4 linked regions of the Homo sapiens genome follow. The protein of the gene in region 3 purifies or fractionates together with the protein of the main gene of each other region. This does not show direct contact. Each region holds a gene or a part of one and is shown on either strand. Other genes may lie near its edges.

Region 1 (7,727 bases), on a different chromosome or scaffold from region 3:
TAAGTACTTAAAAAGTATAGCAACGGGCCTCAGAGCCTATTGAGACATTTGGGACTGTTTGCTTCTACACCAGCACTTTGGGAGGCTGAGGTGGGTGGATCACTTGAGGTCAGGAGTTCCAGATCAGCCTGGCCACCTGGTGAAACCCTGTCTTTACCAAAAATACAAAAATTAGCCGTGTCTGGTGGCCCACGTCTGTTAATCCCAGCTACTCCAGAAGCTGAGGCAGGAGAATCGCTTGAACCTGGGAGGCAGAGGTGGCAGTGAGCCAAAATCGCACCACTGCACTCCAGACTAGCCCACAGAGCAAGACCCCGTCTCAAAAAAAAGTATAGCAGTGTAGAATAAATTGGTATAGAAGCAACAGTCCCAAATGTCTCAATAGGCTCTGAGGACATCACTCTATTAAAATTCATATCAGCATCGATATTCATTTTAATGATCTCAAGATAAAATCAAGTAAAGATAAAACTGCACTCCAGGCTCACCACTGCACTCCAGACTAGGCCACAGAGCAAGACCCCGTCTCAAAAAAAAAGTATAGCAGTGTAAAATAAATTGGTATAGAAGCAAACAGTCCCAAATGTCTCAATAGGCTCTCAGGACATCACTCTACTAAAATTCATATCAGCATCTAAACTCATTTTAATGATCTCAAGATAAAATCAAGTAAAGATAAAACTGCATTGCATAAACTCTGTTTAGTAAATCGAGGACCAGAGAAATACATTTGCCAAAGGGTTTTGAGTTAGAGTGCTCACAAAAGGTTGGTGCTTAAGGGGAACAAATGAGTAAAAATTATTATGGTCATAGACAGCTGAAGTTTAACTGAATTTATTAATTTACCTGAGGTAATTATTATGTATATTTCAAATAAAATAGTAATTCCGTTTTCCTAAAGGTAAAAATACATTAGGTATACATTCCCGAGTCACTGCCCATAAACTAGGATCAGAACAACCAGAATTATAAGGATCAAAATACTGACGTTATTCCTTTAATGCCTTAAAATTAGTCTTTCTTTGTACATTTGGCATAGGACAAAGGCGAGCTCATTTTGGACAGATTTGTTAAACTATCAAGAGGTTGTCAGGCAATTAGGCAGCAGGTCATTACTAAGACCGATACCTTCAAGTATCTATTAAAACCATCATTTTGAAACTGTGAAATCTGGAAAGTGATCAGCTACAAAGGGCCAAATATGGAATGCAGAAGATACAGAATGTGGTGGCTTTGTGTCCGGGATTGGTGGGTTCTTGGTCTCACTGACTTCAAGAATGAAGCTGCGGACCCTCGCGGTGAGTGTTAACAGCTCTTAAGGTGGCACGTCTGGAGTTTGTTCCTTCTGATGCTCAGATGTGTTCAGAGTTTCTTCCTTCTGGTGGGTTCGTGGTCTCGCTGGCTCAAGAGCGAAGCTGCAGACCTTCGTGGTGAGTGTTACAACTCTTAAGGCGGCGCGTCTGGAGTTGTTCGTTCCTCCCCGTGGTCTCGCTGGCTTCAGGAGTGAAACTGCAGACCTTCGCGGTGAGTGTTACGGCTCATAAAAGCCGTATGGTCCCAAAGAGTGAGCAGTAGCAAGATTTATCGCAAAGAGCGAAAAAACAAAGCTTCCACACTGTGGAAAGGGACCTCAGCGGGTTGCCACTACTGGTGGGCAGCCTGCTTTTATTCTCTTATCTGGCCCCACCCACATCCTGCTGATTGGTAGAGCCGAGTAGTCTGTTTTGACAGGGCGCTGATTGGTGCGTTTACAATCCCTGAGCTAGACACAAAGGTTCTCCACGTCCCCACTAGATTAACTAGATACAGAGTGTTGACAGAAAGGTTCTCCAAGGCCCCACCAGAGTAGCTAGATACAGAGTGTCGACTGGTGCATTCACAAACCCTGAGCTAGACACAGGGTGCTGATTGGTGTGTTTACAAACCTTGAGCTAGATACAGAGTGCCGATTGGTGTAGTTACAATCCCTGAGCTAGACATAAACGTTCTCCACGTCTCCACCAGACTCAGGAGCCCAGCTGGCTTCGCCCAGTGGATCCCGCACCGGGGCTGCAGGTGGAGCTGCCTGCCAGTCCCGCGCCGTGCACCCGCACTCCTCAGCCCTTGGGTGGTCGATGGGACTAGGCACCGTGGAGTAGGGAGCGGCGCTCATCGGGGAGGCTCGGGCCGCACAGGAGCCCACGGAGTGGGTGGGAGGCTCAGGCATGGCGGGCTGCAGGTCCCGAGCCCTGCCCCGCGGGAAGGCAGCTAAGGCCCGGCGAGAAATCGAGCGCAGCGCCAGTGGGCTGGCACTGCTGGGGGACCCAGCACACCCTCCGCAGCCGCTGGCCCGGGTGCTAAGCCCCTCATTGCCCGGGGCCGGCAGGGCCGGCCTGCTGCTCCCAGTGCGGGGCCCGCCAAGCCCACGCCCACTCGGAACTCCAGCTGGCCCGCAAGCGCGGCGCGCAGCCCCGGTTCCCGCTCACGCCTCTCCCACCACACCTCCCTGCAAGCTGAGGGAGCCGGCTCCCACCTTGGCCAGCCCAGAAAGGGGCTCCCACAGTGCAGCGGTGGGCTGAAGGGCTCCTCAAGTGCCGCCAAAGTGGGAGCCCAGGCAGAGGAGGCCTGGAGAGCGAGCAAGGGCTGTGAGGACTGCCAGCACGCTGTCACCTCTCAGCTTGGGTGCTGCAACAGGCAAAGCAGCAGCCTGGGTTTCTCCAGCCCCGTCACTCGAACCCACGGGCTCATCACCGCACGGTGCGGCCAGACGCCCTTTCTCCTACGTTGGGAGCGAATCTCCTCGGCTCACACAACCCAGCCACCGGCTCCCACCGCGCTGGAACCCCTCTGGCAGCGAGGGTTTGTCCCAGTGCGGGTGACGCCCGGAAAGGAACCAGTCCCAACAGCGCAGGAGACTGAGGGGTCCCTCCACCAGGATCCGCTCACCTGCTTCCAGGTGTGTCGCCTAAGAGCGGCTCCTGTTCACTTTCGTTCCGCAGGCCGGCCATAGTTACACTCCCTACAAGGCGTCTTGCGCCCAACTCTCGCGACACCTGCTTTCTCCCATCCCGGGTGGCGTGAAGCTGGCAAAACAAGCCTGTAAGTGCGCGTGCGCACCTGACGGTCAGACGTAGGCGGAACGCCCCGAGGTCATAGGCGGGGTCACGCGGAAGGCCGGGCAGCGCAGGGCGAAAGGAGGCTGTGTCCTCAGCCTCCTCCCTCGGCACGCGCCTCCCATCCTGACGGGGACTGAGAGCCCAGGAGAGCTCGGGGCGTGTCCAAACTGCCGCGCCGCCCTGCTCCGGGTTTGTCTTCCTCCCTCCGTTTCTCCTTCCGCTGTATCTAGCATTTCGGTTCCTGGAAAGGTTACCGGAGCTGCGATTGGGGCTGGGACCAAAGTTGAGTCCTGGAAAGGGAGCCTGGAGAGCGGCGGTGCTGGGAGGCCCGGCCAGCTCGATCGCAGGCTTCCACCTGGCGGCCAGTAAGTAGCCGGTCCGGTTAAGTAGTAGGTGCGCTAAGAGCTCCCCGCGCCTCTTAGCGCGCCGTGTACGCGCCTGGAGGCAGGGACCGGGGACGCGGAGCTGGGCGGGAGACTCGCGGGTCAGGGACGCGGGGTGAGGCTGGGGGTGAGAGACAAGGCTGGAGTCCGTGGCGCGCTTCGGAGGGCTGAGATAATGGGGGCGAGCGCGCGGGCAGTCCCTTCCCCCCGTGAAAGGTAGAGGTGGCTTCCAGCTCTCTTCTCTAGCTCGGCTAAATGCAAAGGCGCCTTACCTGGAGGGCTTGTCAGAGCCAGGACTGAAGGTGGGATCTGCTGCTTGTAACCTGCAGGTCCCCGGATGCGCACCCCAACGGCGCCTGCGCCTACGGGGGCCTCAGCCTTGCAAAATGTCACTCAGCAGAGCCTGCTGCTGAAACGTGGGAGTTGAAAAAGGTACAGCACCTGCCTAGCAATGACCAGCTCCTTTCGTCACAAGGAAGATGACATTTTTAGAAAACATGTCATGGGTTTTCACTAGATCTCCATGTTTATTTCTTGGTGGTTATGTATTAACATCTTATCTCTACTATTAGGCTTGTAGGCTAGCTGGCGTCAGTAGTCATTCTGTGTCTCATAAATTACCGTTTTATTAGCGCCAGATACATTGTCATGTAATTTCATTTGATCACAAGTATCCTATGAGATAGGCGAAGCAGACACATTGCTAGTTTACTGAAAATTAAGATCCAGACAAGTTAACCCAGAGTCACTCTGTGTGGAAGTGGCAAAGTTGGAAACCAAACTTAATTTTTTTAAATTAATATTTATGAGCATTTACCCTATGCTAGGTCCTATACTAGTTACACAGTCATGTATGGTATATGCCATCACTTCTGATCTTTGTGTCATTTGTGACCTTGTGTGTATCAGCCAGGCGCAGTTCACTGGTGAACACCTAAACTTGAAACGTGCGGTCTGGGTGCGATGGTTCATGCCTGTAATCCCAGCACCTTGGGAGGCCAAGGCGGGCGGATCACGAGGTCAGGAGATCGAGACCATCCTGGCTAACACGGTGAAACCCCGTCTCTACTAAAAATACAAAAAAAAAAAAAAAAAAAAAAAAAAAAAAAAAAAAGCCGGGCGTGGTGGCGGGCGCCTATAGTCCCAGCTACTCGGGAGGCTGAGGCAGGAGAATCCCTTGAACCCGGGAGGCGGAGGCTGCAGTGAGCCGAGATCACGCCACTGCACTCCAGCCTGGGCAACAGAGTGAGATTCTGTCTCAAAAAAAAAAAAAAAACCAAAAACCTTGAAACGTGCTATTCAGAAATATCTTCTAAATCAAGACCTGATATTTTGTACTTGGATTCAGTCTTGCAGATTCATTTGTAACAGCTCACAAAAACAAGTCAGATTTGTATTATTGGTTCCAAAAAGACACATAGGTAGAAAAGTTAGTATTTTCTTGCCATAATGTCGCTTTATTATATTGTCTTTTTTAATTCCTGGGGGCTAGCAATGTATGGCACATATATAGTGGACAAGGGGATTTTTAACCAGTATAGCAGTAAGCAGAATGGCTCCTAGATAAATATATGTTGGATGAATGCTCATTGAATTACTTCATCTCATCCTTACAACAATCCTCTGAGGGGGGAATTGTCTCATGTGTACAAGGAAATGGAAGGCAGGGAGATTAAGTAACTTGCCTAGGATCATACTACTAACAAGCAACAGAGCTAGAATTCAAGAAATGCAGGACTCCTGATCCTAAGCCTGTGCTCTTTACCACCAGGCTTCTTATGGGAAAAAATGGCAAAGCGGCAAGAAGAATCTTTCCTTATATCTCATAAAAATATATAGTAGATATTCAGTTTTTATCTAAGTGAAATAATTGGCTATCATGTATCAGGGCAGATATTACTTTCTGTTTATAGGTTAAGGTGGCTTACTCAAGGTCACACAGCTGGTAGAGGAATCCCAGCCCTCTGACACTGCTCTTTTCCATTGGTGCCTCCAAGTGATGACTTCAGACCACAAAAGCATATGGAATGAGTACATATACAGCTGGTGAAATCTAAGTAAGCTTAGTGTATTGTACCAGTAGGAAAAAAAAAAAAAGAAAATGTCTCTTAGGAACACACACATAGCATCCAAAGTAAACATTTAAACATATATATATATGTAATTTTTTTTTATAAAGCCCATGGAAAAGAGGAGCTAAATTTGAAGAGATTAGATTATTTCCCGAATGTTTCACACAAGAATATGAGACTCCATTTGGTGCATTTCCTTAGGTGACTGCCCAGGATATTTACCCACACCCCTTTCAAACAAACAGCCGGGCGCGGTGGCTCACGCTTGTAATCCCAGCACTTTGGGAGGCCGAGGCGGGCGGATCACGAGGTCAGGAGGTCGAGACCACGGTGAAACCCCGTCTCTACTAAAAATACAAAAAAGTAGCCGGGCGTGGTGACGGGCGCCTGTAGTCCCAGCTACTCGGAGAGGCTGAGGCAGGAGAATGGGGTGAACCCGGGAGGCGGAGCTTGTAGTGAGCCGAGATTGCGCCACTGCACTACAGCCTGGGCGACAGAGCGAGACTCCGTCTCAAAAAATAAACAAACAAACATCCTATTTTCTTACTCTTGTTCAGTGTAAGAGTAAGGAATTATATTTGTTGAATTATATTTGTGAAGCTAGGGAAGTAGATTTTAACAGTGGATATCTGAGGTATCTAAACCCTTTCTTAGCTACTTAAACTTGTATAGACATTATTTAGAAGTGAAATTACAAGATAAAATTTAAAGTCTTCTTTTTTAGGTAAGGGAATAAGTTCTTGTACATGGTGATATTTTTTAAATTTTCATTTATGCCTTTGAGATATGTATCACCAATGTAAGGATAAAAGTCCAGAAAAAATTAGTATTGCATTGTTAAATGCTTAGGTACCCAAATGACAGGAAATAAAAGCACTAGATAGCATAATAAATGATGAGTGTCACTTTAGCAATAGAACTCATTTCTAGGAAAGACTTTTTAGTTCTTGGCACTGTACTAGAACTTCTATTTTTGTTTCCCTTTGCTTTTCCCTTTCACATTGATAACTGTGTCATTTTAGCTTGATATATACTTCAAAAATAGGTTCTATTTCTGCAGAAGCTCATTGTTGTCTGTCCAGCCTGAAGTGGGGACTTTTAAGTATCTGGCATGACTCCAGATGGTGCCTTATTTTGGTGATTTGGAGTTACGTTCACCCTGGGCTTGGATTTTTATCTGTTCATGGTGGCACTAGATACCCTGGACCCAGCCAACCCTGTCTAGAAAGACTTACGTGTTTAGAGAGTTCCACAAAAACTGTCTTTTATGTTGTTCTTGGAGCTGAAATGGGATTTAAGAAGATTTGTATGACCCCAAACCCCAGAACCAAATTTATACTAACCTATATGTGCGTTTGATTTACTTTCTTTTCCTCATTTATTAGTTGTTTATTAGTAGGTAAATATAGTAAGGAATATGCTGTGTCTAAGTTTGGAGTGCTGACTTTTGTGGCCTGTTATGCAGGGAATTAAAGTGATTTGGGAAGGTTTTCTTTTTTTCTTTTTTCTTTTTTTTTTTTTTGAGACGGACTTTTGCTCTCGTTGCCCAGGCTGGAGTGCAATGGTGCAATATCAGCTCACTGCAACCTCCACCTCCTAGGATCAAGGGATTCACCTGCCTCAACCTCCCAAGTAGCTGGGATTACAGGTGCCCACCATCACACCTGGCTAATTTTGTATTTTTAATAGAGACGGGGTTTCTCCATGGGTCAGGCTGGTCTCCAACTCCCAAACTCAGGTGATCCGCCTGCCTCAGCCTCCCAAAGGGCTGCGATTACAGGCATGAGCTACTGGGAAGGTTTTCTAGTTTGGGTTGAAAACTAGAAATAAGTAAATAATTTAGGCAAACAATAAATATAGTACTTTACAAAATATTTGAAAAGTTCATTGTTCTTAGGTCCTTTCTTGCTTCCTTTGCAACTTTCTAATTCTATATTTTTGCTTTATCTTGGTTTTATCTACCAATCTAGAAGAATATCAAAGTTTAGGAAAATGGAGCATCTCATGAGCAGTATATTACTTTTCTTCTTACTGTAAAATATAGGTGTTGGAATTTTTTTTTTTTTTTGGAGACAGGATTTTGCTCTGTTGCCGAGGCTGGAGTGCAGTGGTGCAACGATGTGCACTGTTGCCTCAACTTCCCAGGCTTACACAATCTTCCCTCCACAGCCTACTGA
Region 2 (2,787 bases), on a different chromosome or scaffold from region 3:
GCTCAGAATGTAAATGACCTGCCAGGAAGCTGTTTTGACCTGAAACTGGGGCCTAATATGAGTCTCTAGCAAGACTCAATTAATGAAAGACATTTTTTAAACCATAGGGAAGTGAGGGGGAGGGTGGAGAACCCAAGGGAAAGGCGGCTAATGTAAGGGAAACTACTTCTCCTAAAAGACATTTCATATAAAACAAACCAAAACCAAAACCAAAAAAAACAAAAAACAAAAAAAGGAAAGAAAAAAAGCAAGGACTGCCAAGACTGCCTCTTTCTTATTCTTCCAAAAGCTCCAGCTCCTGAACTGTGGATTCTAACCAAGGTGGGTGGAGCACAGCTTGCACTGCAAGGGAATGAAGCCAATGCGAAGGCCCAGAGGGAAGGGAAGCGTTGTCAGAGTCTGGTGGTAAGCTGAATTCTGTGCCTGTTTAAATGGGGTTGTCCTTGTGGTTGCGGCATTTCCCTTCTCAACTTCAACAGACAATCAGTGGCATTACCCAAAAGTGGAGACGCATTGAGGACAGCACAGTTACAAGTGGGCATGAGTTTTTATTCTCAGTGCACAGCAGTATTGGTTTCTGTTCATCAGCAAAAAGCTTTATTGGCTCCAACAAATTATCCCTTTTAAAACTCCTCTTCTTCTTCTGGTCTCAGTGGAACAACACATTTGAATTTCAGATTTGCAGTTTATAGCATTTTTTTTCCCTAAGAACCATATAAATACATGCAAAACCTTGTACATAGAGCTTAAATAATATCAAAATGCAAATATAGATTGGGTGCACTGTTAAGCTGAATTGCAAATTATGGCAACACACACTGGACTGGGGTATACGTTGCTTTGATATCACCATTTGTTTGTTTATGTCATGCAGACCACAATAGTCAATCTTTTGTTTTTCTTTTTTGTACAAAAATACCAGTGCTTGTTATACTAGTTACTAAAAGAAGAAGAAACTCAAAATTCCTATCTGCGTGCTAATTTGAAAAGAACAACGTAGATAGATTTGTTGGCACATATATATGGCATATTCACATATGGCATATATACATATGGGGAGAAAACATGAACCAAAGGCCAATTCAGTTATGGGAGCTCATCTCCTTCCATCTCTCCTAATCAAGAGCAAAGGGAACAGCAGGCCTAACAGCAGGGTTGGGAAGGCAAAAGGACTGGCACTGAACTAAGTGAAAGGGCGTCTGGTCTATTCAGAGGAAGAGGCTGGAATGGCTTAACAATAGCAGGCATTTATAAGTGCCCACCCTCACCAATGCATCGGGGGTGGTCCCTAGATATGAAAGGTGAGGAAGTCTCTGCATACTGTGATGGTACCACGGGCTGCTTCAATTGTAAGGCAAAGGAAGCAGGAAAGAAAGGAAGGGATGCATTTAGAGGCTTTTCCACACAAGCGAGTGTGCCACGCCCCTCTGGGTTTTCAGCAGTGAGGTAACCATTCAGATTTAACCATGCCAACTCTCCTCTCTGAAGCTCAAGGGGAAGAAGAAACTCAAACCCTAAAGAACCCACAAGTGTCCAGAGGGATTTCTAGGTGATCTCTCTCTTAACCCCTTTAGGGACAGGAGAGTCATTCCAGAGGACAGATGATACTATGGGAAGGATCTAGCCTTAAGACTGTCACTCAGGGCTAGAACCAGCCATTGTTTTATCCATTTAGAATTCTGTCCCCATTTAATATATTGCACAAAATCTTTCTAGGGGAGGGAAGGCATCACAAATAAGATCCTTGCACAAAAACTCACTAATGGAAAACTCCAGGGGGAACAGGAAATAAAAACCATGAAAAATGCAAACCCCAAATCAGAGTATCCTTATAGACCAGGAGATATTCGTGTCTTTTATACCACTCTGCCAGCTATTCTTCAAGAAACACAAATCCAACAGAGGCCCCTGATCCTAATGACTAGTCAGGAAAGATTCTGTCTATCCATCTGCATGGTGGGGGTTGGGGGGAAGATTCATTTCCTGACAGCTGTGTCCCTTGCTGGGTGTTTTCCTGACTATCCACAGTTTACTACCCGTTTTTCTAGGTTTATTAAGAGAGGAAGCTAGGATGATACGTTCTCCTTCTCCCCATCAGACCCTTTTCAAATCCAAAGCACCATTTTGGGGAAAAGTGTTATTAACTTATGCCATATTTACCCACTGCCAGTTGGATCAGTGAAACTGAATAGAAAAAACTTATATAAAAAACATATGCACATAGACACTTAAACTTACCTAATTCCATATCAACAAAATTTATATTAAAAAAGTCTAGAACCCAACAATTTTTCTTCCCTAAGTATAAAGATGGCTGTTTGCAGAAAGAAAGTATGGTGTATTGGTTTTAAAACCAATTACAAATATACTAAGTCACCTGTCATGCCAAACAGCTGGTTATGTGCTCCCTTCCACAGGGCTACATGACGGCACTTTATTTTAAATCCTTTAAACAAAATACATATGGCTGACCCAAAAATATCAGTTTCTGATCTAAAGAAAACTATAATTTTTGCATATATTTCTATATTTTCTCTCCTATTATGGAAACTAGAACACAAGAAAAAAAACCATTGACTTTTAAAAAGTAGACACAAGCCCTCAAGGGTAACCTGTCAGGCACCATGAGAACCTTTTGTGAACAGGAATGGTAAAATAGCCTTCAAAGCTCGTTATTGGCTTGCTATTTAAAATGATCTGAGGTAATACAAGATTTGATAGAATTAAATCTTCTAAAATAGTTGATGAATATATATGTGAAACCTAACACCTTGGGTGAGCTGTTTT
Region 3 (7,065 bases):
AAAACCAAATCCAAACGTTTGTTTCTCAGTCACCTTCCACAATATGTGTCATTAGATACACTGACTTCTTAACACTCTCTTCTCTTGGCCTCTGTGATATTACCTTCCCCTAACTGTGAACATGCTCGTAAATGTACCCTGCTTTATAGCTTTCCTGAACAATTCACTATTCCAACTTAATGCCATTTTCCGTTCCATGGCTAATGCTGTTTACTTCTATCTGGAATTATGCCCTTCACCAAGTCTTCAGCTTCTTAATTTGTGTGTGTGCGCATGTTTGAACCTTTTTTTCATATTCTATATGCAATGACACATTTTATCTTGTACAATAATTATAATGGCTGTCTAATCTATTATTCTGGATTTAAACTTTATGATGGTAAAAAGGAGTCTTATTCATAAATGCTCATTTCACATAATTTAACATAATGCCTTATGAGACACCAAGGTTAAAGATTATGTGGAAAGGCTGGGCGCAGTGGCTCATGCCTGTAATCGCAGCACTTTGGGGGGCCGAGGGGAGAAGATCGCTTGGGGCTAGGAGTTCAAGACCAGCCTGGCTAACATGGCAAAATCCCATCTCTACCAAAAATACAAAAATTAGCTGGGTGTGGTAGCTCACACTTGTAATCCCAGCTACTTGGGAGGCTGAGGCACGAGAATCGCTTGAACTGGAGAGGTGGAGGTTGCAGTGAGCTGAGATTGCACCACTGCACTCCAGCCTGCATGACAAAGAGACTCTGTCTCAAAAGAAAAAAAAAGAAAAAAAAAATTACTTGAATAGATGGATGCCCATTTTGGGGGTTGACTTTTTTTTTCTTTTGCAATTACATCTAAAATTCTAATTTGTATCCATGTAATCCTTACCCAGGCCTCTTCCTTAATTCCCATGCTGTCCCTTTTAACTTTCTTTTTGTGAAATTCCTAATTTTTACTGGATAAAATAACATTTTACTTTTATAGAGGCTCAAAATATTTTTGTGACTTGAAAGTAGTTCTGCTGAGTCAGCCAAATATTGCCATAGGGCCTCATATGATTAGCAGAAGTTAAAATAGCAAGTCAACAAAATAATAAAAAAGAAGACATGGGCTGGGCACAGTGGCTCACACCTGTTATCCCAGCACTTTGGGAAGCCAAGGCAGGCAGATCACCTGAGGTCAGTTTGAGACCAGCCTATCCAACATGGAGAAACTCTGTCTCTACTAAAAATACAAAATTAGGTGGGCATGGTGGCACATGCCTGTAATCCCAGCTACTCAGGAGGCTGAGGCAGGAGAATCGCTTGAACCTGGGAGGCAGAGGTTGTGGTGAGCCGAGGTTGCGCCACTACACTCCAGCCTGGGCAACAAAAGCAAAACTCCATCTCAAAAAAAAAAAAAGAAGAAGAAATTATTCTCATTCCCCTTTCCATGGCCTTGTCTACTCAGATATTTAAATACTATCACGGTACCCCCCTAAAATATTGAGAGAAGAATAGAGTCATGGGATGCTAGGGCTGAAAGAAAACTTGGTAATCATCTCTCCTCTCCTCATTTTGTTGTTGTTGTTGTTGTTTGTTTGTTTGTTTGTTTGTAGAGATAGGGTCTTGCTATGTTGCCCAAGCTGCTCTCAAACTCCTGGACTCAAGCAATCCTCCCATGTTGGCCTCACAGTGTGCTGGGGTTACAGACATGAGCCACTGTGCCCAGCCTACGTTTTCTCTGCTTTTATTTCTCAAGTTTGACAGTGAAACTCAGCAAATTAGATTACAAGCATATAATCATTACTAGGGAGGTTCTTGGATTTCAGGTCCGAGGACTGTTAGGCAAATGCTGTTTTTACTACCAAAAAAAAAAAAAAATCACATTAAAAAAAAAAAGATATATGGTATTGCTAATAAAGGGGAAGCTGCCGAGAACTGCATGAACTGAAGTAGCAGGGACTGCAAACAGCAAAATTTTAATAAAAATAGAGTTATCTGTCATGAGCTATATGTTAAATATTGTTATTATCTGTTTTGAAATGAAAGTATGTAGGAGTCAGGGATTAAAAGTCCTTTAGAACAAGGCTGGGTGTGGTGGCTCACGCCTGTAATCCCAGCACTTTGGGAGGCAGAGGCGGGTAGATCACCTGAGGTCAGGAGTTTGAGACCAACCTGGCCAACATGGTGGAACCCTGTCTCTACTAAAAATACAAAAAAATTTAACTGGGTGTGGTAGCACGTGCCTGCAATCCCACCTACTCAGGAGGCTGAGGCAGGAGAATCGCTTGAACCTGGGAGGCGGAGGTTGCAGTGAGCTGAGATCATGCTACTGTACTCCAGCCTGGGCAACAGAGTGAGACTCTGTCTCAAAAAAAAAAAAAAAAAAAAAAAGTCCTGCAGAGCAAGATTACTTTTTACATTTCTTCAAGTTAATTTGGCTAAAAATACCATACCTTTATGTGTTTAAGATTAGTAGAGGATTAAAAAAAATTATTACTAAGTTGACCAGCCGTAATTTAAAGGTAATTAATATCCTGAAACTAAAATTCCACTGTGATAGAGAAAGAAAAGTGGACCCCAGAATCAAATTGTAGTAATAGGATAACAGAGTCAGTAGCAATAAGGAATGGGCAAAAGAATAAAAAAAAGAAAGAGGAAATGGAAAGGGAAAAAAAGTGCAATCAATTATTTGAAAAACAAATTAATGGGGACAGCTGGAATCAAAGTTCAGGGTGAAATACATAGCCAATTCAAAGAAAGGAAAGAAATGATGTAAAAATTCACTATTAATTCCACTATGAAAATATTAAAAGCAAAGACAAATGCAATGTGGAATATTTAGAAAAAGGAAGTTAGACATAGAGATAAGATAAAAGAATTCAAAGTCAGAGAAGGAATAGGGGAAATAGAAGATAGTGACACTCAAACTCATTACCTATAATGAGCAAAACAGGCTAAGCACAAGTCATCAGGTAGGTCTAGGTTTTCTTACCAAAAAACTGAGACAGTAGCTGAAGGCTTCAGCACCTGGATGTCTCCACGAGTCCTGTCTGGTCCCCACACTTAGCCACAGTGAAGTCATGAAGTATGGCAAGAAAATTTGCTGAGCTTTCTCTTCTTCTGTTCTCTCTCTGTTTCCGGCAATAAGTTAAGTCTTATGCTCTAGACCACTATCTGACCTCACAGGAAGAGTTTCAAAGTGAGTCATTTCTAAATGGCTTAGAAAGGCAAAGCAGGAAAACAGAAGTAGGAGTTTATAATCCTGAGACATTTTCTGCAGCACACAGAGAATGGTTAGAGAGAGGGTACCTCTGTACATAGGGTTCAACTTTATAGGTTTTGTTTAGAAATGAAAAAAAAAAGACTCTATGAGATGTGAGGGTTGGAGTGGGGAGTGGTTGGGGAGGAATGACCTGAATAAACTCATTTAATTAATCTCAAATAACATATCTGAAATGCTTGATATATGTGAAAAACGGTGCCATGTCAAAATCAGGATGAATTAAGCTATATTCTAATCTCCAGAGATTCACAATCGAGTGGGAATATGTACCCATACATATACACACAAAGCTGTAATACAAACTAGGCTATAATAATAGAAGTAACAATAGAAGTAAAATAATAGAACACTCTAGCCAGGGGTATATATAACCCAGGGCAATCTAGGAGAGTCTTAAGATAGAAATAAGATGTGGGCAAGTACTTAATTAAGTACCTGTAGGAATTCTAGAGACAGAAAAAGGTGAAAAGCTGCTTAGGCTATAAGTGGAGCCTAGTCAAAGGCAGGTAGGTGGTAGAGGGCAGGTAGGTGGGGAGGTAGGTGGGAGAGCTTAGTGGTCACTGGAGAACAGGCTGGAGTCTAGGTGCTGTTTCATCAGGAAGGAGTACAGAAGACTGAAGGTAATTCCTGCTTAATGAATACTATGCTGTAAATAATTCTTATATTATTCTTTTAGATATATGCATATACTCTTTTAGATATATGCATATAAAATAAAGTTTATTTGGGTCAAATGTATTTGAACACTGTTGTCTGTGATATAGGCTTCAGTCTATATTAATCAACTTGTCCAAACCATAATATCTGCTCCTCTGCTTGTTTGCAGTCAAGTCACCACGGAATATTTTTGAGGCAGAAAGATCAAAAGAAAAATGCCAAGAGTTGAGTAGTATTTATTAGTTTATTTCCATTGTCATCATCTAATTACAAAAATAGAACATACTTTGTTCTAGAAGAGATAAATTGAAATAATACAGAATTATAATGGGTAAAAAAAATGAAAGATTTTCTTTTCAATTCCACTGCTCGAAGTAACTATTTTTAATAGGTTAGTGTTCATTCTTCCTGATTTTTTTTTTTCTGAATATAGCACACATTTTGTTTGTTGGAGACAGGGCCTCAGTCTGTCGCCCAGGCTGGAGTGCAGTGCCACCATCTTGGCTCACTGCAACCTCTGCCTCCTAGGTTCAAGCAATTCTCCCACCTCATCCTCCTTAGTAGCTGGGACTACAGGCATGTGCCACCACAACCGGCTAATTTTTATATTTTTTCGGTAGAGATGGGGTTTTGCCATGTTGGGCAGGCTGGTCTTGAACTCCTGAGCTCAGGTGATCCACCTGCCTCAGCCTCCCAAAGTGCTGTGATTACCGGTGTGAGCCACCCCACCCGGCCTAACACACATTTTTCTAAAAGGTAGTTTTGAACATAAATGGGATGGTAATTTATGTGTGATTTTATGTCTTGCTTTTTTACTTAACAATATATCAAAACATACTTCCATGTTAGTACATATAATCCTATTGATTATTTTGGGTTTTCTTTCCTCCAATATTTGGAAATATTGAATAATATAGGTATCCAGAAAGCATATAAAATGTAGGATTATCATATATGTACATATATATCTAATTAAAATATATTTTATAAAAACAATTAATTCCCCATGGTAAAAATTAAATATGAGAAGATTAAAGTAAAAACCAAAATTTCCTAAACACCTAGCTATCCTCTTTCCACTTTCCAGATGTAGTCTCTCTCTTAAATACGCATATTCTACTACGCATATTGTTTTGTTCTATTTTTTCCACTTATCTTTTTATATCAGGACATCTTGGCCCAAATTACACTTTTTTTTTTTTTTTTCCTGAGACAGAGTTTTGCTCTTGTCACCCAGGTTGGAGTGCAATGGTGCGATCTCGGCTCACTGCAACTTCTGCCTCCTGGCTTCAATCGATTCTCCTGCCTCAGCCTCCCAAGTAGCTGGGATTACAGGTGCCCACAACCACACCTGGCTAATTTTTTGTATTTTTAGTAGAGACGGGGTTTCACCATGCTGGCCAGGCTGGTCTCGAACTCCTGCTCTCAGGTGATCTGCCCACCTCGGCCTCCCAAAGTCCTGGGATTACAGGCGTGAGCCACTGCGTGCGGTCCCAAATTATACTTTTTAAGTTGCTCCATATTATTCCACTTACTTAATTATTTTTCGTGGAATATTGTTTTTATCCAATTTTAAATGATTATAAACAAAACTCAATGAGCACTATAGTATTTACATGTATTTCTGTAGAATAGAGTTTTAGAATTGGAATTGCTAAGTCTAAGAGCACACACTTTTACATTTTGAAAGATACAGAATTTTCCACTAAAGAGACTTCACAAATTGTCACACTAAGTTCAGTACCATAAACATATACTCTGCTTCTGCTCCTGCTCCTGATACAGTGTGTTGCACTGCGGAAGATGGAGGAGGAATGAGAGATGTATATAACTGTAATACAGTAGGGGCTGTTAGGAGGGCACAATACACCCTGGGAATATGAAACCGTAAGAGACTAATTCTCATGGAAGCAAACCCACGATGATGCACTGAAGAGGTAGCATTGGGGCCATAAGGATGGGTAGAAATTTGTCAGGCAATAGTACTGTAAAATAATACCTTGTCTCTCTCTCTCCCCTACCATGAATTTCTTGTCTGTCTCCAGTGGCTGCTACCTTGCCTGGTATAACAGGTCTGTGGCACCAATAAGTGAATGAATGTTTGTTTGAAAAGGATGTTGACATCTGAATATAATTCAAATAATTAACTTGAGTCCTTAGAGTTGTTTCTGGCATGAATTCACTTTTACTAATTTCTCTCTCTCTAAAGATTACACAGCAATGTGGCTGGGTGTGGTGGCTCATGCCTGTAATCCCAGCACTTTGGGAGGCCAGGGCGGGCGGATCACCTGAGGTTAGGAGTTCGAGACCAGCCTGGCCAACGTGATGAAACCCTATCTCTACTAAAAATATAAAAATTTAGCTGGATGTTATACAGCAATTTAAACTGGTTCAAGAGCTCCCAGCTGTGTTCTTTGGATTTTTCAGGAAGAAAATTACTAAAAACTTGTTGTGAATAGTGCTCCTGTTTCTGGATGACCTCTCTCTCTTCTTAAAAAGTACTGGTTGTTTTGTGGTGTATTGTGGAAAGCTCTGAGGAAGTTATGTGATTCACTTCTGTTTTGTTCTATTCTGAATATCTAAATATAAATTTCTAAAAGCAGAGATCAGATGCTTTGGAAAAAAGAAAATTTGAATGTATGTTGCAAAGGCAGCCATATTAAAACCTTTTACCAGTCACTTGACTAATTCTACACTGTAATTGATGGAGATCTGTATTAAAGCTTGTTTGGCCAAAATAAAAATGTTAGAATCACAGATCTCTAGCTTGTTTTCTCTGAGAGAGTTAAATACATTATAAAGTTACTGTCCTTAAAGACTTCAACAAAAAATGATTAAATCCGTTATTAGATAATTTGTAGTAACCTATGCTCTAAATTAAATATAACTAAGTGCCAAAAACTGTGGATGACACAGACAAATGCAATGGCTGGTCAGCAAAGGGTAAGATTGATTGATGGTGGCTAGAATTAGCTGGAAAATTTTTATGGAAGAAAAGATTCATGAGGTGAATAGAGCACTAGACCAGGAATGTGGAGACATACATTTGACTTTCAGTTTTGTAATAACTACTCGACCTTGGGCTAGATACTTGACCTAGAAATTTGTTGTTGTTTTCTTAGGTGGAAAATTAAAGGTTGGATTAAATGGTCTTTCAGGTTT
Region 4 (7,221 bases), on a different chromosome or scaffold from region 3:
TAAGCCTTATGGGCCACGTGGCTGTGGGAATGAGTCTCCTGATGGACCAATCCCAGGGCCGATGCAGGGTCTCCCTCTGGCTTCAGTAAGCAACTCCCCCGAGAGGTCATCCCCTAAATGTTTAGCTGTGTACCGTCCACTTTTCAGGATCCCTTTCACAGGATGCCTTTGTGGCATGGGCCTCATAAGAACAAAATGTACCCCTACCCTGTGGCCCCCTCACCAGAGTATTCCCTTTCTTTATGTCCACCAGCCTCTCCAAGACAGCAGCCAAGTTAGGGTCATCAGACTCCACCGACCAGATGGGGGGCACAGCAGGGTATGACTCCTGAAGGGAAAAGAGCAATAAGAGCAATCAAAATGGGTGACTCTGGGAAAAGCCAGATTTTGCCTGTCCTCTTCCCCCCAAGACTTCTAGCCCCTTTGCTTCCCACCCCCACCCCCTACACACACATAAAAGCCCAACTTAGGTCAGCATCTAACCAAGCAGCTTCACAACAAATTCTAAACTGGAAGAAAAACAGTCCCTGGGAAGACCCTTTCCGAGAAGCAGACTGAAACCTTTTCTTTCTTTCCTCGAGAGTACAAACCAGGAAACCTAGCACAGCCAAACTTGGCTAACAGCGAAGGGGGACTCCTCATCTCCTGCACTGCCTATACAAGTTCTAGACTTCAAGTTCTCCCTGGACCCAGAACAGTCCTCCAAGCTTGCTTTTCAAACTCCAGAATCGGCTGAGGAAGGGATCACCTCATCACAATGACACTGAAGTGAAAAAAGCAGAGTTCAGTAGGGAAGAAGTATAAAAACTAGACTGTATCTCCAGAACCCAAGAGTAAAAGGGTACTGGCAAGAATCTACCCACACCACTTCCAGAAGAGCCCCTCAAAGACCAATTCTCCCCACCTCTCCCTTGGGAACCTGCCACCTTCTCAGTCCAGGCGTGGGCTGTAGGGCTCCACATGGCAGGCTGGGAGAAAGAAGCCTACGCTACTGACATTCCCAGCATTCCTGAGCCACGGTGCCAAATGCAGCCTGACCAGACTCCCTCTCTGCCCAAACCAAGGGGGCTAGTTTAGGCCAAGTCTCCTTTATAGCCATGGGGAGTCTGGCTGAGGACCCCCTAAATTTAACTTCCTGCCAGGGACAAACGCAGTAAATGGCCTCTGGCAACAGAAAGAGCAGCTGGATAGGGGCAAACCTACCCTTAAGGAATTAGAAGCTTAATTCAGGAACAAAATTAACTCGAGGTTCCCACACAAGCCAGGGAAACCTTATCCACCTCTACTGGGTATCTTAGCATTGCCATGACTCTAATCCTCAATGCTGGAGGAAAAATAATTATCAAAGATGCCCAAGTCTTCACTTAACTAAGCCACTCCTAGTCCTTCAATTTTAACTTTCTAGCAGGAAAAAAGAAAGGAAATGAAAAGAGAAATGGGACATATGAGTTTTGGTGGGGCACCAATCAATCCAAACTGAGGCTTTACCTCACCAAATCTTAACTTGGTTTGATTGAGAAAACGGACAGAAAACACCAGTAAGTTGAATTCAGGCCCCCAAGTAGCAGAGAATTCACAACTCTGCCTTTCCCCAGGCTACTCCGATTAGGTCTGCCTGCCTGGATAAAGTACTGTCTGCTAGCATTTCAGCTACTGCTCCGGTAGAGAGAATACCATCACAGCAGGTAACATCAACCAATATAAGTGCTATAGCATGCAGTACCAGACATTCCCAAATTAGCAGAAGCCAATTCTCTGTTCAAGGGATGTCTGAGGGTAGACCAGGCAGGAGACATGTAAGGTGTATGCCTAGGATGGAATGACGCTCACAGGGGAGAAATGCAACTGTTACTGCTTAGAATAAATGGGGGTAGCCCTCGCACATCACATCACTATCATTACCAGGAAAAGCAACAACCCAGGGCAAATGGACATATCCATAGGGAACAGGCAGGGGAGTGGCAGAACTGCTACCAGCTGAGGCAAAAAGAGGAGAGTTAGAGGTTACACCAGAAAAAGAATCCAAAGGAGAGAAGGAAGAGGAGTCAATGAATTGCAAACTATCACTTGGTGAAGTTGAGAGAGCAAGAGGGTCTGCATGAGGGATGCCTAGGCGGGGATCCCACAGGTGGCAACCTCCTAAGTCAGAGGTACTACTGAGAAGGGGGCATCGCTGAAATGTGCAGTGAGTTTCAGGCCAGGTCTTTGCAGTTAGGGTCAGTGCCGAGGCCTAAAACCTTGAAATAAGAGTAAGGGGAAGAAAGACGCATTCCTAGGTGGCAAGGTAAAGTTGTGGAGGAGTAGCCAAAAAGAGCCAAAATCATGAACCTTGGGATGTGGGTGGGTTCGTGGAAACGGGTAGTCTAGGCGCCATATGTCGGGGTGTCCCTTGCTATTGGGGTCAATGGTAGAGATTCTGGGTGCACTGCATAACCTCAAGCAGCAGAAACAAATGTAACCTGGAGAGAAAGAACTGAGCCCTGAGAGGGGCTTCGGCCTCCCAGGTCCTTCGAGAGCAAAAAGCTGGATGGAGTGATCCTGGGTCCCTGACAAGGGGCCCCCACAGAGGCGCACGCGAGGGGGTCCTCACCGTGATGTTGCAGTGGATGCGGACAGGATCCCCAGGCACCGACCCCCGTGGGGGGAGATGCGGTCCGGGCGCGGCCCCCGCCCCGGCCCCTCCGGCCCCAGCCAGCAGGAACTCGCAGCTCAGCTCGTCCAGGCAGGCGCTGGCAATGCGGAAGCGCTCGTGGCCGCGGTGGAAGATGGACTCGAGCAGCTTCAGCTCTCGCCTCAGGCAGGGCCCCGGCCCCGGGCCCCCCCCTGGGCCGCCCCCGGCCCCCGGCGCCGCCCCCTGGCCCCCCAGCTGCTGCCCCGGCCCCGGCTGCTGCTGCCCCTGCGGCTGCGGCTGCTGCATCCTCCGCTCCGCTCCGCTCCGGGGCCGGCGGGCCGGGAGCCTCCGGCCTGCGCTCCGGGCTCCGCCGCCGCCGCCGCCGCCGCCGCCGCCGCCGCGGTCCGCACTTCCTGATCCCCCCTTCGCCAAGATGGCGCCGCCGCCACCTCCGGGACAGGCCCCCCCCTCCGCTCGCTGGCCCCCCCAGCCGCCGGAAGCCGCGCGCCCCTCCTCCTCCTCCTCCTCCTAGGCGGCCCCGCCTCCGTCCCCCTCACGTGACTTCCCTGCTCTGGCCTCCTCCACGTGATCTCTCCGTCTTTCCCGCCCCCCTGTTCTCGCCTGCCACCCTCCACATGTGACCCGGGGCCTGGGGCTTGCCTCTGTGGGCGCCTCAGTGCGAGTTTGCGTATGTCGTGCGTGCTTGCGCGCGACGCCCCTTCGCCTGCGCTCCCCTCTCACGTGACTCGGTGCCGCGTGCTCCCAGGGGCTACCCGCGCAGGACGCTGTTTCCTGCCCCGGGCGCCGCTTCCCCCGCCCCCGAGCCGTGGCGAGCGTGCCCGGCACTCCATGGACAGAGAAGAAAGAAGTGCTGTCTTCCCCGTGCAGTCTTTATCCTGCTCCCACATGCTGGTCTTCGGCGCAGGATCCTGGAGCCTCTGCTCCCCGTGGGGGTGGGCATGCTGTGTCTTCACACTCGGGTGGGTGGTCGGGGTAGGAGCCGGGAACCGGAATGGAAGAGGCGTGGATTCTCGTCCCAGCCCTGGCTCTCATGGCGTTTTGTGACCTTGGGTTAACCACTTTCCCGCCGAGTCTCAGTTTCCTCATCTGTACAATGGCTCTCATGAGAATGATGCCTGTTTTTCCTATTCCCAGGGAGGGATTCGATGCGAGGACACCATAAAATGAGGAATGATAATAGATCACTGCTGTGTTATGTACAAGTGTTAGTTAATATCAGGCCTTTCGCGCTTTTCAGACCCCATGGGTCTGGACGAGGTTGGGGGAAGGACAGCATGGGCTTCCTCCACAGAGTCATGGAAGGAGTGCTGACTCGGGTGGTCCCCATTCCCTTTCCTAGGCCTAAATGGCTAACACCTTGTCGCAGTGGTCTTGGCAGCTGCCAGGAGTAGGTAGTGCCTCCGGACCCTCGCTAGGTGGCACTATCACAAAGGACAAAGCTGGTTGAAGCTACAGAAATCCCGAGCTGGCGTTCGTTTTGCCAAGGGCAAGTGTTATTAGCCTGTGGTAAGGCCTAGTCAATTCTGCTGGGCCAACTCAGCCCTTAAACCACTGGTCAGATTGCCCCGTTTCTCTCCCACTTGTACTAAAATGAGCTAGCCTTTGCTGGAAGACTATTCAATTGCCTCTGCAGAGGCCTCCTTTGGTCAAGTTGGGGTATGGGTATTTAAAGACGATTATAGTCTGTTCCTGGTCTTCGTGGGGCCATTTATCTGGTTTAGGTAGCCTGAACAGTTTGCTACATGTTGACTTTGTGTCTGTGTGTGCAAGCTGATAGCATAAAAGGCTGTGGTGGGAATTCCTGTTAATTATTTCCTGAGCGAAGGTGTTTTGCAAATATATATATATATATATATATATATATATTTATTTATTTATTTATTTATTTATTTATTTTAAGACAGGGTCTTGCTCTCTCGCCCTGGAGTGCAGGGGCACAATCTCAGCTCACTGCAGCCTCGGGAGACCTCAAGCTATCCTCCCACCTCAGCCTCCCAAGTAGCTGGGATTACAGGCGCATGCTACCACAGCTGGGTAATTTTCGTATTTTTTTTGTAGAAAGGGGTCTTGGTATGTTGCCCAGACTGGTCTCAAACTCCTGGGCTCAAGTGATCTGCCCATCTCGGCCTCCCAAGGTGCTGGGATTGCAGGTGTGAGCCACTGTGCCCAGGTGCAAATATTTGTAAATCTCCCAACAACATTGCAAGGTAAGTATTTTTACCCCTGTTTACAACTGGGGAAAAGGAGTGACTCTGTAAGGATATACAGTCTGTAAACAGAGTTCCTAGGCCTGTCTCCAAAGTCCATGCCCTTGTACCCTACTCTGCCTTTTTTAGTGTGTTGAACCCCAGCTCTGCCAACTACTAATGATGTGACTGTGGGGAAATTACTTAGCTTGTTTGTGCCTTAGTTTTCACACCTGTAAAATGGAGATCATAATAGTACTTACTTGTTAGGAGGATTATGTAAGAACACACGTAAAGTGCATAAAATAGTGCCCATGGTAAGAACTCAAACATTTTTTTAAAAATTGGGGCTCAGCAAGGCTTGTGTCTAGTGAAAGGAGAGAAGGGTAGGAGATGAGTCCAGTGAAGAAAGCAGGGGCTAGATTATGGAGACCACAGTACATTGTTTGGGTTTTATTTAAAGCACAGTGGGAAACTCCTGGAGGATTTTAAGCAGGGAGTGGCATGAGCTGATTTAAAAATTTAAAAGATCGGCCGGGCGCGGTGACTCACGCTTGTAATCCCAGCACTTTGGGAGGCCGAGGCGGGCGGATCACAAGGTCAGCAGATTGAGACCATTCTCACTAACGGTGAAACCCCGTCTCTACTAAACAAAATATAAAAAATTAGCCGGGCGTCGTGGCAGGCGCCTGGAGTCCCAGCTACTCGGGAGGCTGAGGCAGGAGAATGGCGTGAACCCGGGAGGCGGAGCTTGCAGTGAGCTGAGATCGCACCACTGCACTCCAGCCTGGGCGACAGAGCGAGACTCCGTCTCAAAAACAAAAACAAATTTAAAAGATCACTCTGGCTGTTCTGTGGAAAATGGATTGTAGGGATTTTTTTTTCCTCCAAAAAATCATTCATTACGGGTGCCCATATTTGGAGTAGAGTGAGCAACCTTCTCCTTTGACTTGCTCCCTGAGCATAGAATTCTGTCATTGACTCAACAAATAATGTCCTGAGCACTTAGTCTTTGCAGGAATTGTAGAGGGCACTGGGGATGCAGAGATAAAGAAGATAATGGTCCCTGTGAGAACGTGATTTGTGGTACAGAGGAGAGGCTTCTTACCGGACAGTTCCTACTTATTAGTTTTGTTGTATTCTTGCTCCAGCCCTTAGGAGCACACAGTGATGGATGAAGTGGAGCCAAATCTCACCAACAGTAATACAATACGATGAACACAATAATAGGGATCAAGAAGGGGAACGGCCTTGAAGGGTGATATTATTAATAGGATTAACTCCAAAAAAAATGTGAAAGTAAGAGTTTCTTAGGTGGAATGGGAGAACATTCTGAAAGAACTGGGCCCTAAAGTAGAAGGAGGTTGGGAAGAAAGGTCTAAAACAAAGAAAGAATGACTTAAGAAGGGGGCTGGTGCAGTGGCTCACGCCTGTAATCCCAGCACTGTGGGAGGCGGCCAAGGCAGGCAGATAACATGAGGTCAGGAGTTTGAGACCAGCCTGGCCAACATGGTGAAACCCTGTATCTACTAAAAATACAAAAATTAGCCGTGCGTGGTGGCGGGCGCCTATAGTCTCAGCTACCCAGGAGCCTGAGGCTCGAAAAATGCTTGAACCCAGGAGGCGGAAGTTGCAGCGAGCCAAGATGGTGCCACTGCAGACCAGCCTGGGTGACAGTGAGACTCTGACTCAAATAAAAGGAAGGGAAAGAGACAAGGAGGGAGCTCAGCATAGGCAAGAGTTGTAGAGGTGTTGGTCGTTGGGGCTATTGCCTGAGATCCCAGGGTAACCCTGATAGCCTGGTAGTATCAATGCTTCTGAAAGTCAGTTTAGCAGTTAATATTCAAAACACGTTAAAACTTTAACCCAGCAATTACACTTGGAAAGAAAAGGTACGTGCACAAATTTGCCTAAAAGGGAAAACTGTAGCTGTGAAAAATAGTTATCAAAAATACTTATTGGTATGGAGAGTTGTTTGAGAAATAGTAAATGAAAAAAGATTAGACTGAAGTGAGCTGAAGATTTAAAAAAGAAAGGTGGTTACAAAGCTATGTTACAGTGTGCTCCATTAAAAAAAAAATATGCGATTTAGTTATGTACCCAACAGAAATGCATATACAGTCATGTGTCAGTTAATGGTGGGATACATTCTGAGAAATGTGTCTCAGTGGTTTTTTTGTTGTGTGAACATCATAGTGTACTTACACAAACCTAGATGGTGTAGCCTACTACACACCTAGCCTATAGGGTCTAGACTATGGCTCCTAGGCTACAAACCTGTACTGCATGTTATACTGTAGTGAATACAGTTGCTGCATTCCCCGTGCCCACTAGAATTCCTGCAATTACTGTAGGCAGTTGAAACCCAATAATATGTATTCATGTATCTATCTAAACACAGGA

Evidence for each region.
Region 1: the proteins of C3AR1 (region 3) and MFSD8 purify together in Homo sapiens (affinity purification with mass spectrometry; 2 studies listed by BioGRID and IntAct, with this or other methods). This does not show direct contact.
Region 2: the proteins of C3AR1 (region 3) and ATP2B4 purify together in Homo sapiens (affinity purification with mass spectrometry; 2 studies listed by BioGRID and IntAct, with this or other methods). This does not show direct contact.
Region 4: the proteins of C3AR1 (region 3) and UBE2Q1 purify together in Homo sapiens (affinity purification with mass spectrometry; 2 studies listed by BioGRID and IntAct, with this or other methods). This does not show direct contact.

The regions. Positions count from the first base shown.
Region 1 is NC_000004.12:127,962,147-127,969,873, forward strand, and holds the start of MFSD8 (major facilitator superfamily domain-containing protein 8), read right to left. Parts: upstream 3,028-7,727; 5' UTR 2,988-3,027; coding exon 2,926-2,987; intron 1-2,925. UniProt on the Homo sapiens protein: Outward-rectifying chloride channel involved in endolysosomal chloride homeostasis, membrane fusion and function. Conducts chloride currents up to hundreds of picoamperes.
Region 2 is NC_000001.11:203,741,823-203,744,609, reverse strand, and holds the end of ATP2B4 (plasma membrane calcium-transporting ATPase 4), read right to left. Parts: 3' UTR 529-2,787; downstream 1-528. UniProt on the Homo sapiens protein: Calcium/calmodulin-regulated and magnesium-dependent enzyme that catalyzes the hydrolysis of ATP coupled with the transport of calcium out of the cell. By regulating sperm cell calcium homeostasis, may play a role in sperm motility.
Region 3 is NC_000012.12:8,063,323-8,070,387, forward strand, and holds the start of C3AR1 (C3a anaphylatoxin chemotactic receptor), read right to left. Parts: upstream 3,038-7,065; 5' UTR 2,956-3,037; exon of another isoform or gene 2,899-2,955; intron 1-2,898.
Region 4 is NC_000001.11:154,555,637-154,562,857, forward strand, and holds the start of UBE2Q1 (ubiquitin-conjugating enzyme E2 Q1), read right to left. Parts: upstream 3,027-7,221; 5' UTR 2,918-3,026; coding exon 2,591-2,917; intron 329-2,590; coding exon 224-328; intron 1-223. UniProt on the Homo sapiens protein: Catalyzes the covalent attachment of ubiquitin to other proteins. May be involved in hormonal homeostasis in females. Involved in regulation of B4GALT1 cell surface expression, B4GALT1-mediated cell adhesion to laminin and embryoid body formation.